Homo sapiens: one gene and its partners. The protein of the gene in region 4 interacts with the protein of the main gene of each other region in a pairwise test. Each region holds a gene or a part of one and is shown on either strand. Other genes may lie near its edges.

Region 1 (3,795 bases), on a different chromosome or scaffold from region 4:
CTCCCACCTCGGCCTCCCAAAGTGCTGGAATTATAGGTGTGAGCCATCCCACCTGGCTAAAATTTATTTTCTTTATACATGTATAGGTAAACTAAGTAGTATGTGTAGAATAGAGCCATTGTCTTTCTGCTGTACACTAAGTTAGGAATCAAATTTCTTAAGCCATTTTGTCAATTATGTATATAAAAACCATTGGTGCTTTAGAAGCAGATATTTCATTAACTTTTTTCTGATTATATCATTGTACATCATCAGTTCAGTCTAAAAAGGAGTTTTTTTCATATGTATTATAAAATATTTCATGATATTTGAGTTTAGTATGCCTTTAATCCAGTTGTAGATGTTAAAATAGGAGTAATTTTGTGTTCAAAATAATGATCTTCTGAAAAGTGAAATTCTAGGAAAGAGTCCACTGTTTAAAGCTAGCAGCTGGTGGCCGTGTGGCCGAATAATGTCCCAGGCCAGGGCACTCCCCTCTCAGATGGTTGGTCATGCTGCGTCGGAGATCAGGAATCCTCAAGGAACCTTTATGTTATAGTTGTACCAGTGCTTTAAACATAATGAAAGGTGCATTTGTTTTATTTTACCCATCTATAAATTGTGAGAGGTTTGGCTATGGAGAGTCTAGTGAGCTTATTGAACAGCATAAGAAGATAAGTGTGTGTGTTTGTGTGTGTGTGAGAGTGTGTGTATGTGTGTGTGAGGGGGAGGGAGAAGTTATTGTGCTTTCCAACATATAATAAATTGCTTACTTTGATCACTAACTGTTAGGTAAATACTGATGATTTCTAGCATAAGTCTTTTTTCTTTTTTTTGGAGACAGGTCCTCCCTCTGGCGCCCAGGCTGGAGTGCAGTGGCCCAATCAGCTTACTTCAGCCTTGACCTCCCTGACTCAGGTGATCCTCCCACCTCGGCCTCCCAAAGTGCTGGGATTACAGGCATAAGCCGCTGTGCCCAGCTGATATAAGACATATTTTTAACCAACTTTAAGATCTTAGTTTTTTTTCAGGATGGTTATAAGCGAAGGTAGAATTGCAGAAAGACTTTGTGGTAAATATTCAGGATTCGGCTCTGTTGCCTTACAATTTGTTAAGTGCATGATGGAAAAATAGTTGAAACAATGCAACAGCTGTCTCAGTTCTGAAAGTTAACTCAGAAATGGCAGAAAGCAAGGTCAGGCATGGTGGCTCCGAGCACTTTGGGAGGCCAACGTGGGAGGATGGTTGAAACTCTGTCTCTATGAAAAATATAAAAATTAGCTGGGCATGACAGTGCACACGTGTAGTCCCAGTTACTCAGGAGGCTGAGTTGGGAGGATCACCTGCGCCCAGGAGTTTGAGGCTACAGTGAGCTATGGTGGCACCACTGCACGCCAGCCTGGGCGGCAGAGCAAGGCCTTGTCTCAAAAAAAAAAAAATCATAAAAATAAAGCAATGGTAGAAAGCAGAATTTGACCTTTCAGTTACAGATGAGGAACAAAGTGAGGAGAGGCCATTTTTTGGTAAAAGAACCATCTGGCGGGACGCATTGGCTCATGCCTGTAATCCCAGCACTTTGGGAGGCCAAGGCAGGAAGATCACCTGAGGTCAGGAGTTCGAGACCAGCCTGGCCAACGTGGTGAAACCCCATCTCTACTAAAAATACAAAAATTAGCCGGGTCTCATGGCAGGCGCCTGTAATCCCAGGTACTCGGGAGGCTGAGGCAGGAGAATCACTTGAACCCGGGAGGCAGAGGTTGCACTGAGCCGAGATCGCGCCATTGCACTCCAGCCTGGAGGACAAGAGCGAGACTTTATCTCCAAAAAAAAGAGAACCATCCAAAAATTGCTCAGAGGTCAAGAATTTCAGAAGAAAATACAAAAACTTTGGCTGAAGAAGATTTAACTAGTGCTATAGAAGGCTTAAGAAGTGTGGTTCTAGCACTTTTCCAACTCATATTTGTATCAAATACCAGGAAAAATAGTTATCACCATTTATCATCTAGATTTCTGGGCCGTTTTACTGTTTTGTCATTTTAAGTTGTTTTACACGTAATTTACAGAAGTAAGAATAAAGCAATAATTTAAAACAACTTTATAAGAAATTTGATCCAACCTCTTTGTATCAAGTAAGTTTTGACACACAAACATTAGAAGTGTCCTCTTAAGGAAGTGGATGGTCCAGGTTCCTTTGAAGTGTGATCATTCATGTGAGCGGGCAGCTGATTGAGACTACTGTGTCCCCTTTTCGTCCCTCACTTCCTCTTGATTCTGAGAAGATTGATCTAGGGTATTGTCAAATGAAGACTTGTCTGAGATTTTATTTTCACGTCAGTTTTGCCATCATCATTGGCCATGGGTGCTCTCTCTCTGCATTCATCTTGTGACTCATCTAATGATCCCGAAAAGTCGACACTGTCATGTTTCTTTGCTATTTTGGGAAGAAATTGAAATGTTCTTAGTGAATCATCTTGTTAAAGCAAGCTAATCTGGGCACTGTGGCTCATGCCTGTATTGCCAGCATTTTGGGATGCTGAGGTGGGAGGATTGCTTGAGCCCAGGATTTTGAGGCCAGCTTTGGAACATAATGAACAGAGACCCTGTCTCTACAAAAAAATAAAAAATAAGCTGGGCACAGTGGCGCATGCCAGTAGTTCCAGCTACTCAGGTGGCTGAGGCAGGAGGATCACTTGAGCCCAGGAGGTTAAGGTTGCAGTGAGCTGGGATTGCACCACTGCACGCCAGCCTGGGTGACAGAGCAAGACCTTGTCTCAAAAAATTAATTAAATTTCTTTTTTAAAGTAGAATTCATGGCCGGGCGCAGTGACTCACACCTGTAATCCCAGCACTTTGGGAGGCCGAGTTGGGCAGATCACAAGGTCAAGAGATTGAGACCATCCTGGTCAACATGGTGAAACCCCGATTCTACTAAAAATACAAAAATTAGCTGGGCATGGTGGCACGCGCCTGTAGTCCCAGCTACTCAGGAGGCTGAGGCAGGAGAATGGCGTGAACCCGGGAGGCAGAGCTTACAGTGAGCTGAGATTGTGCCACTGCACTCCAGCCTGGGTGACAGAGTGAGACTTCGTCTCAAAAAAGACAAAAAAGAAAAAAAAAATTAGCCGGGCGTGGTGGCATGCGCCTGTAGTCCCAGCTACTCGGGAGGCTGAGGCAGGAGAATTGTTTGAACCCGGAGGCGGAGGTTGCAGTGAGCCGAGGTCATGCCACCAGCCTGGGCGACGGAGTGAAACTTTGTCTCAAAAAAAAAAAAAAATTACAGGCTGGGCACGGTTACTCACACCTGTAATCCCAGCACTTGGGGAGGCCGAGGCGGGTGGATCACCTGAGGTCAGGAGTTCAAGACCAGTCTGGCCAACATGGTGAAACCCCCGGGAGGTTGAGACAGGAGAATCACTTGAACCCAGGAGGTGGAGGTTTCAGTGAGCCGAGTTCGTGCAACTGCATTGCAGCCTGGCAACAGAGCAAGACTCCGTCTCAAAAAAAAAAAAAAAAGTAGAATTCATTAAGAAGAGGGGCAGGAACATCATTAGGGAAATTACTTGCATTATAAAAATGTTTAGAGCTGGCCAGGTGTGGTGGCTCATGCCTGTAATCCCAGCACTTTGGGAGGCCAAGGCGGGCGGATCACGAGGTCAGGAGATCAAGACCATCTTGGCTAACATGGTGAAACCCTGTCTCTACTAAAAATACAAAAATTAGCTGGGCGTGGTGGCGGGCACCCATAGTCCCAGCTACTAGGGAGGCTGAGGCAGGGGAATGGCGTGAACCCAGGAGGCGGAGATTGCAGTGAGCTGA
Region 2 (3,795 bases), on a different chromosome or scaffold from region 4:
ATTGTGCTACTGTACCGCAGCCTGCGTGACAGAGTGAAACTGTGTCTCAAAAAAAAAAAAAGAAGTTTTAAGTGATTTTTGTTAATATTACTCTACTTTACCAAAGTGAAGTCCAGTTTCTTTTCACAGAGCTGTAAATACTCAGATAATTAGTCAATTCAGACAGAATGAACAAAAAATGCTCATAATCCTTCCCATCCAGGGAAAACCCTGTCAAAACCAAGGTGTTTGTCTTTGTAAATTAATCTGACTTTGAAGAGATGGTTTTGCTTGGATTTCTACCTATGAGTCAAAAAGTCTAGGGTTTGTATTAAGAGCTTCTGTATAAGAGGTCTAAAAATTTCAGCTTTACTGAAATTGAAGCAAAATAAACAAAATGTGATCTAACAAAATGAAGAGCCAAAAGTCTGAAGTGCTCCCTTCCCTGGCCAGTACCAGATGATGACCTGCTCTGGGAGAGGCCGGGCCTGGCCGGGCCGCACGCTCTCTGTTCTTTGGCTCCTGATGTTGGGTAGGCAGGACTGAAGGAGGCAGTGTTTGCATGCAGGACATGGGGGCTGAAGTGGCCAGGGCTGATTGAGAAGAAAACTCGACCTAAATATTTGAAAGCATGTATTGGAGCTAAACCGCGTACTGTGTGGTTCTGTTCTTTTCCTAACTTGGGAATAAACTATTATTTCAGCTTCGAGTAGAGAGAGAGAAACAAACCTGGACGAGTGTTCCTGGCCGCGGTCTCTGCAGTCTGGGTTTCCCAGTCTCCAGGAGATGCTGGTGCTTCAGGCCACCTTGCCACCAGTGGAGGAGCTCCCAGTGCGCCTGGCCTGTTGGCACCATGGTGCTGGACCCACCTCTGGGGTGGTTGTGAGGGGCAGGCTCTCAATACAGTACTGACTGCTGCCTGAAACCGGGTTTACTGCCTTGCTGTGGTCTGAGAGGCAGCTGATCTGGCAGCCCTGTTCTTAGGCCCTGGGCACTACCCCTGGGTGCATGTAGGAGGCCTCAGCTGTGCATTTGAATTCTGTGTAGATGAGGGTGAAGCTTCTTATTTTTTATTTTATGTTTAGAGACAGGGTCTTGTTCTGTTGCCCACGTTGGAGTGCAGTGGCGTGATCATGGCTTACAGTAGCCTCAAACTCTTGGACTCAAGCGATCTTCCCGCCTCAGCCTCCTCCCAGCCTCAGCTGGGAATACAGGCACGAGCCACTGTGCCTGGCCCATGGTGAAGCTTCTTGATGTGCAGCCGTGGGCGGGGATGCTGAGTCTAGTTGGTTATGGTGTGCACTAACCAATGGCTCCGGTGTAGGACCCACCTAGAGCATCTGAGGATGTTATGCTTCAGGCCAGCCAGTCACGCTGGAAGGGAGATGAGACCCCATCTGAGCAGCGTTTTAGAGATTTTAGAGAAAGAGGATCTTCCTTATTCCCTGTGGACAGAACAGAATCTGCCTTCAGGGACGGACTGCTTTTATAATTCTAGTGGTTTAAAAAATTAAAATTTCAAGTAAAAAAGATAGTTCTTTTTTTTCCCCCCTTTTTTTTGAGGTGGAGTCTTGCTTTGTTGCCCAGGCTGCAGTGCAGTGCGGTGATCTTGGCTCACTGCAACCTCCACCTCCTGGGTTCAAGTGATTCTCCTGCCTCAGCCTCCTGAGTAGCTAGGATTACAGGCACCTGCCACCACACCCGGCCGATTTTTGTATTTTTAGTAGAGACGGGGTTTCACCATGTTGGCCAGGCTGGTCTTGAACTGCTGACCTCAGGTGATCCACCCGCCTCGAACTCCCAAAGTGCTGGGATTACAGGCGTGAGCCACTGCGCCAGGCTAAAAGAGATAGTTTTAAGGTTATAATCTGTTTTTTTGTAAGTTTGATATACTATGATTAAATAATAACAGCGGTAAATAAACACTTTGAAAAACAGGCAGGGCTGGGTGTGTGGCTCACACCTGTAATGCCAGCACTTTGGGAGGCCGAGGTGGGTAGATCACGAGGTCAGGAGTTCGAGACCAGCCTGGCTAACATGGTGAAAACCCATCTGTACTAAAAATATAAAAATTAGCCAGGCGTGGTGGTGCGCGCCTGTAATCCCAGCTATTCAGGAGGCTGAGGCAGGAGAATCTCCTGAACAGAGTCCTGCTCTTCTGCTCAGACGGGTGCAGTGGCATGGTTATGGCTCACTACAGCCTCGACCTCCTGGGCTCAAGCGACTCCCCCACCTCAGCCTCTTGAGTAGCTGGGACCACAGGCATGTGCCACCATGCCCTGCTAATGTTTTTATTTTTTGGTGAGATGGGGTCAAGCAATCTGCCTGCCTCGGCCTCCCAAAGTGCTGAGATTACAGGCGTGAGCCACCATGCCTGGCCTTACATTGATTTATTGTTATTTTTTCTTTTCTGTTCTTCTTTTTTTTCCTGAGATGAAGCCTCGCTCTGTTGCCCAGGCTGGAGTGCAATGGCATAATCTCGGCTCACTGCAGCCTCCACCTCCCAGGTTCAAGCGATCCTCGTTCCTCAGCCTCCCGAGTAGCTGGGACTACAGGTGTGTGCCACGGTGTCTGGCTAATTTTTGTATTTTTTTTGTAGAGATGGGGTTTCACCATGTTGTCCAGGATGGTCTCAAACTCGTGACTTCAGGTGATCTGCCTGCCTTGGCCTCCCAGAGTGCTGAGATTACAGGCGTGAACCACCGCACCCAGCCCTATTTTTTCTTTTCACTTCCTCTCTCCAGCATACATCAGTTTTTATTAACGGATTGAGTTGCACCTGTATAGAATGACATTTTTTTTTTGAGACGGAGTCTTGCTCTGTCACCTAGGCTGGAGCGCAGTGGCACGATCTCGGCTCACTACAAGCTCCACCTCCCGGGTTCACGCCATTCTCCTGCCTCAGCCTCCTGAGTAGCTGGGACCACAGGCGCCCACCACCACACCTGCTAATTTTTTGTATTTTTAGTAGAGACGGGGTTTCACCATGTTAGCCAGGATGGTCTTGATTTCCTGACCTCGTGATCCATCTGCCTCTGCCTCCCAAAGTGCTAGGATTAGAGGCGTGAGCCACCGAGCCCGGCCAGGAGGACATTTTGTCTTTAGTCTTAAAGGAAAAGGGAAAGTCTTTTCCATTTGCACCAGTTTGAAATTAGGGCTCCCTTAACATGGATTACTGCAGGACTCATTCACATGAGAGTTCATACATGGGGTGAAAAGACAAACAGGGTTTCCTGATAACTCTTTTTGGTTATTGCATGAAATGAGGGATAAATACACGCATAATCTGTTTAACAAAACTCCTAGGTTCATCAGAATGCAAAGTAGAAAGTGTCTTAAAAGAGACTGTGATCAGCAGGCAGACGGCCTGTGTCGGTTTGGTTCCTTTGACTGCTTCAGATCTTCTAGGAGGAGCTCCTCTACTACGAGAGCCTGGACTTCAGCCTCACGGACAAGAACCTCAGATAGGCAAGGCTTTGTGATGGGTGCTCCTCCTACCTTCATTCGAATGAGGTTTTCCTCCCGCCTTCACCCTGATAGGGTGCTCCTCCCGCCTTCACTGGTGTCATTTTATTTTGAGTTTAAAAGGATGAACTGGTCTTGGTCAGCCTTAGGAAGGGAAGCATCACTCAGGTGAAAATACGTGGCGAACTTTAAATACCTAGATATTCTCCTCATGCATTTAAATTAGAGTGACTTGAGCTGTTAGAAAAGTTGACTGGGTGCGGTGGCTCAGGCTAGTAATCCTAACACTGGAAGGCTGAGGTGGGTGGATTGCTTGAGCCCAGGAGGTCGAGGCTGCAGTGAGTTGTGATC
Region 3 (3,760 bases), on a different chromosome or scaffold from region 4:
AGGCTGTCCAGACACCAAACACACATCGTACAATTCACCTTATTTCTACTCTTCCTGCATCTCATCAGAGAGCAAATGGTGGAGATATCTAACAAAAAGGCACACAGGATTGTGGAGCTCTATGAGGGTAATCATATCAGATTTTAAGATTTATAAGCGTAGACATACATTTTGGAGACATGTGGCCCTCATTCCCTATCTGTTGACTCTATATAATGTATAAATTAATGCAAATTAAACAACAGAAAAGGGACAAAGCCATTAGTATCTTGCACCCAAAAGCTTCCAACTACAGTACGTAACATTATTTCCAAAATTGATGGTATCCTTACCAATCCAGACTTGGATTTTGCAGATAAAGTTTAGCATTTAAGATTCAAATTCCTGTAACAAATGCCTGCTTAATAAATTTGAATTTTTGAATGAAAATATGTTTCATCAATGTGAAAGTGTGTGTTAAGTGATTTGGAAGGCAACAAATTGGCAGCAAAGGCACAAACTAAAAAATAAAAATGATTTTTATTTAGTTTTTTGGAAATATAACAAAATAATTGGCAAAAACCAAACCAAAACAGAACCAAAAAAATGACATGTTATATGAGTGATCATCTCCAAGCACAACAGCATTTATTAATGAATATAAAAAATAAATTTTACTTTTTTTTTTTTTGAGACGGAGTCTTGCTCTGTCTCCCAGGCTGGAGTGCCGTGGCGCGATCTCGGCTCACTGCAAGCTCTGCCTCCTGGGTTTTACACCATTCTCCTGCCTCAGCCTCCCCAGTAGCTGGGACTACAGGTGTGCACCACCTACGCCCAGCTAATATTTTTTTGTATTTTTAGTAGAGACAGGGTTTCACCGTGTTAGCCAGGATGGCCTTGATCTCCTGACCTCGTGATCGGCCCGCCTCGGCCTCCCAAAGTGTTGGGATTACAGGCGTGAGCCACTGTGCCCGGCCAAATTTTACTATTTTTATTTGCTTTTTCCCCTAGATTTGACTACATGGATAGTTTTAGAAGCTTGAGTTCCTAAGATAATTCCATAGCTACACTGGCTCCTACAATGTGACTGAGTGAGGTTAGGGAAATATCCTTGGGGATTCTGAACAACTAGACCCTTAGAAACTTAAAAATAACAGGTGCTTTCATTAGGATCCTTCTAACATGGAAAAAATACAGCCATTGTCCATTAAAATACAATCCAATTTGGGTACTCTTCAGGTTTTCTAAGTTCTCCATCTGAATAATAAGACTAGGCCACCATCTTTTCTGGCAACCCAGCCTACAGCCACTGCCATCTTCCTAACTAGCAGCCTCCTAAGCTGCACTAAAACTGGGATTAACACAACTGAAGATAACATTTTTGACCTTTCTTCCTAGAAGTCAAAGGGCTCTTCAGGTAGGAAAGGTCAGGAGGTTTTGCATCAAGCTTGCCTTCACACTCACTATTAGTAGAAGGGCTGTGAAATCTACCCATCACACACCTGTATTCAGTGTTTGAGTGTACTTACCCATCAACACACAAGGAAGTTAGAGTAAATTAACAAGTCACTCTGGACCAAGCCCCTCAAAACAGAGGCAAATTTGGTGAACCAAGGTCATTCACTGCCTGTGGTAAAAACCTCAGTTCACCTAAGTCCTTTCCTGAAAAACCACATTAATCTGATTCAAGAGGCACCTCTGGCCAGCACAGAGCACAGAAGGAAAGCATAACTTCAGGGTAGGGGAATGCCACATGGAATTTAGAAGTTGCAGTTTAGTCTACAGCAAAAGATGGCACCATCGCTAATATTTACAGCTGGAAAGAGCGCTGGCTGGACCACACTCCTGGAGCATCTTTACTAATGCAGCTTAACAGCAGTTGCCCAGATGTCGTTGCTGGGGAGCGGGGGAAGGACCCATCCTTGGGGAACGAAGTTGCCTTTGGGATGATCGGATGGCACCAGGTACTGATCCCAATCATGCCTTAATAAGAACATTATAGAACAACTATTTATTTCTGTTTTATTCCAAATAAGATGTTCAGCAACTACATATTCTAAGACTTAGCTTTCAAATGACTGATATACTAATCTATTACAGAACTTGATTTCTAGGAATCAAGAAAATGACTATATTTCTTAAATGTACATATAAAAAGAGGAAAAACTCTGAAGAACTTAAACCTTATGGATAACCAAATAACAAATAAAGTCAATCCTCATTATTTACAGATTCTGTATTTGCATATGTGCCTACTAACACAGGGCAAGTCACAACCTGAGTTTTTTTCTTCACCTATAAAAATAGGGACATCAACTTCTCAAGGACTAATGAGGACTAAACAAGATGTATGCAGCATCCTTGAAACATGGAAACATTATAAACCCATAGTTTTTTTTAAGTTCCTTATGGAACTTAAAAAAAAAAAGACAGTAATAGACCTAAACAATGTAAGCACTTCTTCAAGTGCTTCCTGCTACCTAAGAGAAAGACAACATGGAGAGCCAGCCCCTCTGACCTGATCTGGATGAGCGCTGGCAGGGAGTGCTCGGCTTGGAGATAATACTGTCGGAAAGGCTCCAAGAGGTGAGCAAGTGGGAACTCATCTGAAAGAGAAAAGCACAATACCACGTTATCATGCTTGATATCCACAGTGTATTTCTCAAGGCAAGGTGACTGAGCCTATGATTACGACAGAATGAGAAAATGTGTTCTATCTGTATCCATGAGTTCTATGACACAGAATTGCATCTGGAAGGTGTCATTTGTTGCCTACCACCTCTTAGCTTGAGATCACCCGTGATGAGAAGAGCGTCAATCTAGTATTTTCATTTTCTCCACTGGTTATAGAGCAACATACCTGGATCCCCAAACAACTTGGACTCAATTTCACGTTTCTGAAGTAAAATTTTCTCTTTTTCTTTTCTTTGTTTCTTTTCTAATTCTCTTTTCCTCTCTTCCTCTTGTTCTCCTTCTAGCATAACTCTGAGGGCTCTCTCTTCAGCTTCATACAGTTCAGAGCGCTTTTTAATGAGTTTTCTCAGTCGCTGAAGATGATGCGTAAAAGTCTCATCTGCTGAGGCTGGAGGACAGACCCCTGGGCAGACAGGACAAAATGGCATTTTATTTATTTTTTTTTTTGAGACAAGGCCTCGCTCTAACACCCAGGCTGGAGTACAGTGGTGTGATCATAGCTCACTGCAACTTCAAACTCCTGGGCTCAACCCATCCTCCCACCTTGGCTTCCCAAGTAGCTACAAGTACAAGTGTGCACCACCATGCCTGGCTTTTTTTTATTTTTTATTTTTTATTTTCAGATAGGGTCTCACTCTGTTGTGCAGGCTGGAGTGCGGCAGCATGACCACGACTCACTGCAGCCTCGACCTCCTGGGCCCGAGATCCTCCCACCTCAGCCTCCCAAGTAGCTGGGACCACAGGCACGTGCCACCACATCTAGCCAATTTTTTTTTTATTTTTGTAGAGACAGGGTATCCCTGTGTTTCTCAAGCTGGTCTTAAACTCCTGGTCAAGCAATCCCCCTGCCTTGGCCTCCCTAAGTGCTGGGATTACAGGCATGAGCCACTGTGCCTGGCCCTACCTACTAATTTGTAAATTTTTTGTATGAGGTCTCACGAGGTCAGGAGATTGAGAACATCCTGGCTAACACGGTGAAACCCCGTCTCTACTAAAAATACAAAAAATTAGCCAGGCATGGTGGCAGGTACCTGTAGTCCCAGCTACTCGGGAGGCTGAGACAGGAGAATGGCGTGAACCTGGGAGG
Region 4 (4,090 bases):
CTTGAAGCACTCCCACATCACCTTTCTTTCTTTCTTTCTTTCTTTCTTTCTTTCTTTCTTTCTTTCTCTCTTTCTTTCTTTCTTTCCTTCTTTCCTTCTTTCCTTCTTTCCTTCTTTCCTTCTTTCCTTCTTTCCTTCTTTCCTTCTTTCCTTCTTTCTTTCTTTCTTTCTTTCTTTCTTTCTTTCTTTCTTTCTTTCTTTCTTTCTTTCTTTTCTCTCTTTCTTTCTTTCTTTCTTTCTTGAGATGGAGTTTCGCTCTTGTTGCCCAGGCTGGAGTGCAATGGCATGATCTCGGCTCACTGCAACCTCTGCCTCTTGGGCTCAAGCGATTCTCCTGCCTCAGCCTCCCAAGTAGCTGGGATTACAGGCACCTGCCACCATGCTCAGCTAATTTTTTTTTTTTGTATTTTTAGTAGAGACAGGGTTTTGCCATGTTGGCCAGGCTGGTCTTGAACTCCTGACCTCAGGTGATCCACGCACCTCAGCCTCCCAAAGTGCTGGGATTACAGGCATGAGCCACTGTGCCCAGCCCCCACATCACATTTCTATGTAAGTTAGCTATCCTGGTTTTCCTAGAATTATTTTTAACTTTTTTTTTTTTTTTTTTAAAGATAGGGTCTCACTTTGTCACCCAGGCTGGCATACAGTAGTGTGATCATAGCTCACTATAGCCTCAAACTCATGGGCTCAACCAATCCTCCTGCCTCAGCCTCTCCAGTTGCTGGGATTACAGGTGTGAGCCACCGTGCCCAGCTTTGATTTTTCTAGAATGATTGATATTTATTGGATGCTTTCTATATTCTGCACATTGTACTTAACACTTCAAAGATGATCTCATTTAGTCCAAAAAGTAATCTTCAAGGGAAGCACTGTTTTAAACTCCATTTTATAGATGATGAAATTGAGGCACAGTGAGGTTGATAACTTGCCCAAAGTCTCCCAACTAGGAGTGACAGGACCAGGACAGGAACCCAAAGCCTATGCTCTTAGCCATCACAGAGTACTGCCTTAATCAACACAAATCCCTGGGCTGTGAAAACTGTTTTACTCTCTACTGCATTCTGCCATCTTTTCTAATCTCACTTTTTTGTTGCTCAGGGATTCTTAATCTTTTTTGCACTATGACCTCCTTTGGTGGTATGGAGAAGCCTGTGGGCTCCTTCTCCAAATAATGTTTTTAAATGCATAAAATAAAATACTTAGTCTTGTAAAGGAAACCAATTTCATTGAAATATAGTTACCTTCAAAGAGCCTGCAGGGGTCTATGTACTGAAGATGAAGAACCCCTGACTGGCAATTACTTGTGTTTGCTTTAGAGCTGTGTTGTCCCTTGCGGTAGCCACAGGCCACATTTGACTGTTGAGCACTTGCAATGTGGCTAGTCCAAAGTGAGATGTACTGTAAATGGAAAATATACACTGGATTTCAAAGGGCTTAGTATAAAAAAAGAATAAAAACTGCCTCATTAGTTTTTTTGTGGATTACATTTTGAAATGGTAACACTTTGGATATATTGGATTAAATAAACATATTACTTCAATCAAAATGATTAATTAAATTATTGATTTATTAAAAATAACTCCTAAAGATGTTAACTCTGTACCAACACCTTCCTTATAACAAATGAGGAAATCAGGACCAATGATGCTTGTCACTCAGCCAGCCATTGGCAGATCTGTTGGCTCTCGAGCCTGTCTTCTTTCCAAGATATGGTACTACTTGTATATATTTTTGTATTCAAAGGTCCTATCATGTTGCCTTTGCAAACTGTAAATGCTCCAAATATGTTTTAAAGCAACGGTAATCAACTTAATCCCAGCAAAATCCCGGTACAAACTGGCAGTGTTCTTGCCTGGCATGTCCTTTGCCTTGCTTATTTAGAGTTTTAGTTTTGTAGGTAGAGATGGAGAATGGGCACTCCTAGGGCAAAATCCATGAATTTTGCTGTCTGGTTCCCCTCAGGAAGCGCCTCCAATTTGAGCACCTAACTATATCAATAACCCTATAGACCGAAGAGAAAAGCTTGGTAGCCTTTCTGTTGAGCGTGTAGAGAAGGGTATGATAGTCAGCAATGCTTGTGCTGCCTGAAACTGAAAATGGAAAACTGTATGTGGGAGATAGATCATTTTTTCAACGAGCACATATTGATTGACTGCCTAGCCACAGGGTAGGCAGTGTATATTTGGAGCCAGGGAAGATATCCAGAGGATTTCTGTGTCCTCGAGGAATTTAAGTTAAAATTGAATGGGGCCCAGATGTACACACAGATGGATAAATCACAGTTGGAAGCAGTGCATGAAGATGGCCCGATGAGGGGTAGAGGTCCCACAGTTGGTGGGAACTGAAGGGAGTTCTGTGTGTGCAGCGTTCCAGGGTGCAGTGCCCAAGATGGTTATGGAGTATGGCTTTGGAGCACATGGGTAGTTGGGTCTGTTTCTTACAGGATACAGGATAATAGATCATTTAGTCTATTCCTCTGCTCCTAGGCATATGCTCTATGTGTGGGAAAACCTTGGGTGCTTGTCTGGGCACGGTGGCTCATGCCTGTAATCCCAGAACTTTGGGAGGCTGAGGCAGGTAGATCACCTGAGGTCAGGAGTTCGAGACCAGCCTGGCCAACATGGTGAAACCCCATCTCTACTAATAATACAAAAATTAGCTGGGTGTGGTGGCACACGCAGCTACTTGGGAGGCCAAGGCATGAGGATTGGTGGAACCCAGAGGTGTAGGTTGCAGTGAGCTGAGATCACACCACTGCACTCCAGCCTGGGCCACAGAGTGAAGCTATGTCTCAAAAGCGAAACGAAACAAAAACAACTCAGGCATTTATTGGAAGGTCTCTATTGATGTTTTATTAGTTTTTTTAAAAAAATAAAAATAGAGATGGGACCTTACTATGTTGCCCAGGCTGGTCTTGAACTCCTGAGTGAGCTCAAATGATCCTCCCACCTCAACCTCCCAAAGTGCTGGGATTACAAGCATGAGCCACCACATCCAGCCAATGTTTTATTAGTTTCTACTATTTATTGATAAGGGTAGTAATATCTAGGTATACAAACCCTTATCCAAAACCCCTGGGGCCAGGCATTTGGAATTCAGATTATTTCAGATTTTGGAAAGTAGTAATAGAGTGTACATTCCGCATTTCATCCAGTGGGATCTGGGATAGCAATCTTTGTAATTAAAAAGTTAATATTTCTGCAGCAAAACACACAAAATGGGATAAATTAAAGCCATGAACAGCTTTATATTCATGTTGGTCATGTTTAGTTGCCAGATGAGTTTAGATCATGTCACATTTTGCTGCCAAACAAGTCATGGAGAATTTTCAGCTTTCAGATCACATAGTTAAGGATATGGATCTGTGGTAATAGTAATAGTAATAAAAATAATAATACTAAAACACCAACAGAAAGTATTCAATAATATTGGCACTTATTATCTTCCAGGTACTGTTTTAAGCACTCACCTGTGTTTACTCCTTTAGTCTTCTAACAGCCCTTTGAGGTGGGTTCAGTATTATATCTGTCTTGAGAAGAATAAGAAGCACAGAGCAATTAATCACTTGCCCAAGGTCACAGCTGGTAGGACAGAACAGAATGCAAACCTAGACGATCTTGTCCAGGAGCTTCGTACTTAACCAGTGCCTTGTTTTTTGGAGTAGGGAATTGGAAGCAGGTGTGTCTCTAAAGTTAACTCTATTATTTAGATTAGCCTGGTCTAAACTCACATTACGCTGTTCATTTCTTTTAGATAAACTCATCCTGAAAGTCGCTGTTGTTCTCCTGCTGAGCAAGAATGGAGGCCCCACTGGTGAGTCTGGATGAAGAGTTTGAGGACCTTCGACCCTCCTGCTCGGAGGACCCGGAGGAGAAGCCCCAGTGTTTCTATGGTTCATCTCCCCACCATCTCGAGGACCCCTCCCTCTCCGAGCTTGAGAATTTTTCTTCCGAAATAATCAGCTTCAAGTCCATGGAGGACCTCGTAAATGAATTTGATGAGAAGCTCAATGTCTGCTTTCGGAACTACAACGCCAAGACCGAGAACCTAGCTCCCGTGAAGAACCAGTTACAGATCCAAGAGGAGGAGG

What was found.
Region 1: the proteins of FEZ1 (region 4) and PCNT interact in a two-hybrid assay, tested with the Homo sapiens proteins (one large-scale study listed by BioGRID and IntAct).
Region 2: the proteins of FEZ1 (region 4) and BRD1 interact in a two-hybrid assay, tested with the Homo sapiens proteins (one study listed by BioGRID).
Region 3: the proteins of FEZ1 (region 4) and PDCD7 interact in a two-hybrid assay, tested with the Homo sapiens proteins (2 studies listed by BioGRID and IntAct).

What each region holds. Positions count from the first base shown.
Region 1 is NC_000021.9:46,330,361-46,334,155, forward strand, and holds part of PCNT (pericentrin), read left to right. Parts: intron 1-3,795. UniProt on the Homo sapiens protein: Integral component of the filamentous matrix of the centrosome involved in the initial establishment of organized microtubule arrays in both mitosis and meiosis. Plays a role, together with DISC1, in the microtubule network formation.
Region 2 is NC_000022.11:49,817,874-49,821,668, reverse strand, and holds part of BRD1 (bromodomain-containing protein 1), read left to right. Parts: intron 1-682; exon of another isoform or gene 683-835; intron 836-3,285; coding exon of another isoform or gene 3,286-3,447; intron 3,448-3,795. UniProt on the Homo sapiens protein: Scaffold subunit of various histone acetyltransferase (HAT) complexes, such as the MOZ/MORF and HBO1 complexes, that acts as a regulator of hematopoiesis.
Region 3 is NC_000015.10:65,116,879-65,120,638, forward strand, and holds the end of PDCD7 (programmed cell death protein 7), read right to left. Parts: intron 3,077-3,760; coding exon 2,840-3,076; intron 2,586-2,839; coding exon 2,498-2,585; intron 1,963-2,497; coding exon 1,839-1,962; 3' UTR 501-1,838; downstream 1-500. UniProt on the Homo sapiens protein: Promotes apoptosis when overexpressed.
Region 4 is NC_000011.10:125,489,486-125,493,575, reverse strand, and holds part of FEZ1 (fasciculation and elongation protein zeta-1), read left to right. Parts: intron 1-3,753; 5' UTR 3,754-3,798; coding exon 3,799-4,090. UniProt on the Homo sapiens protein: May be involved in axonal outgrowth as component of the network of molecules that regulate cellular morphology and axon guidance machinery.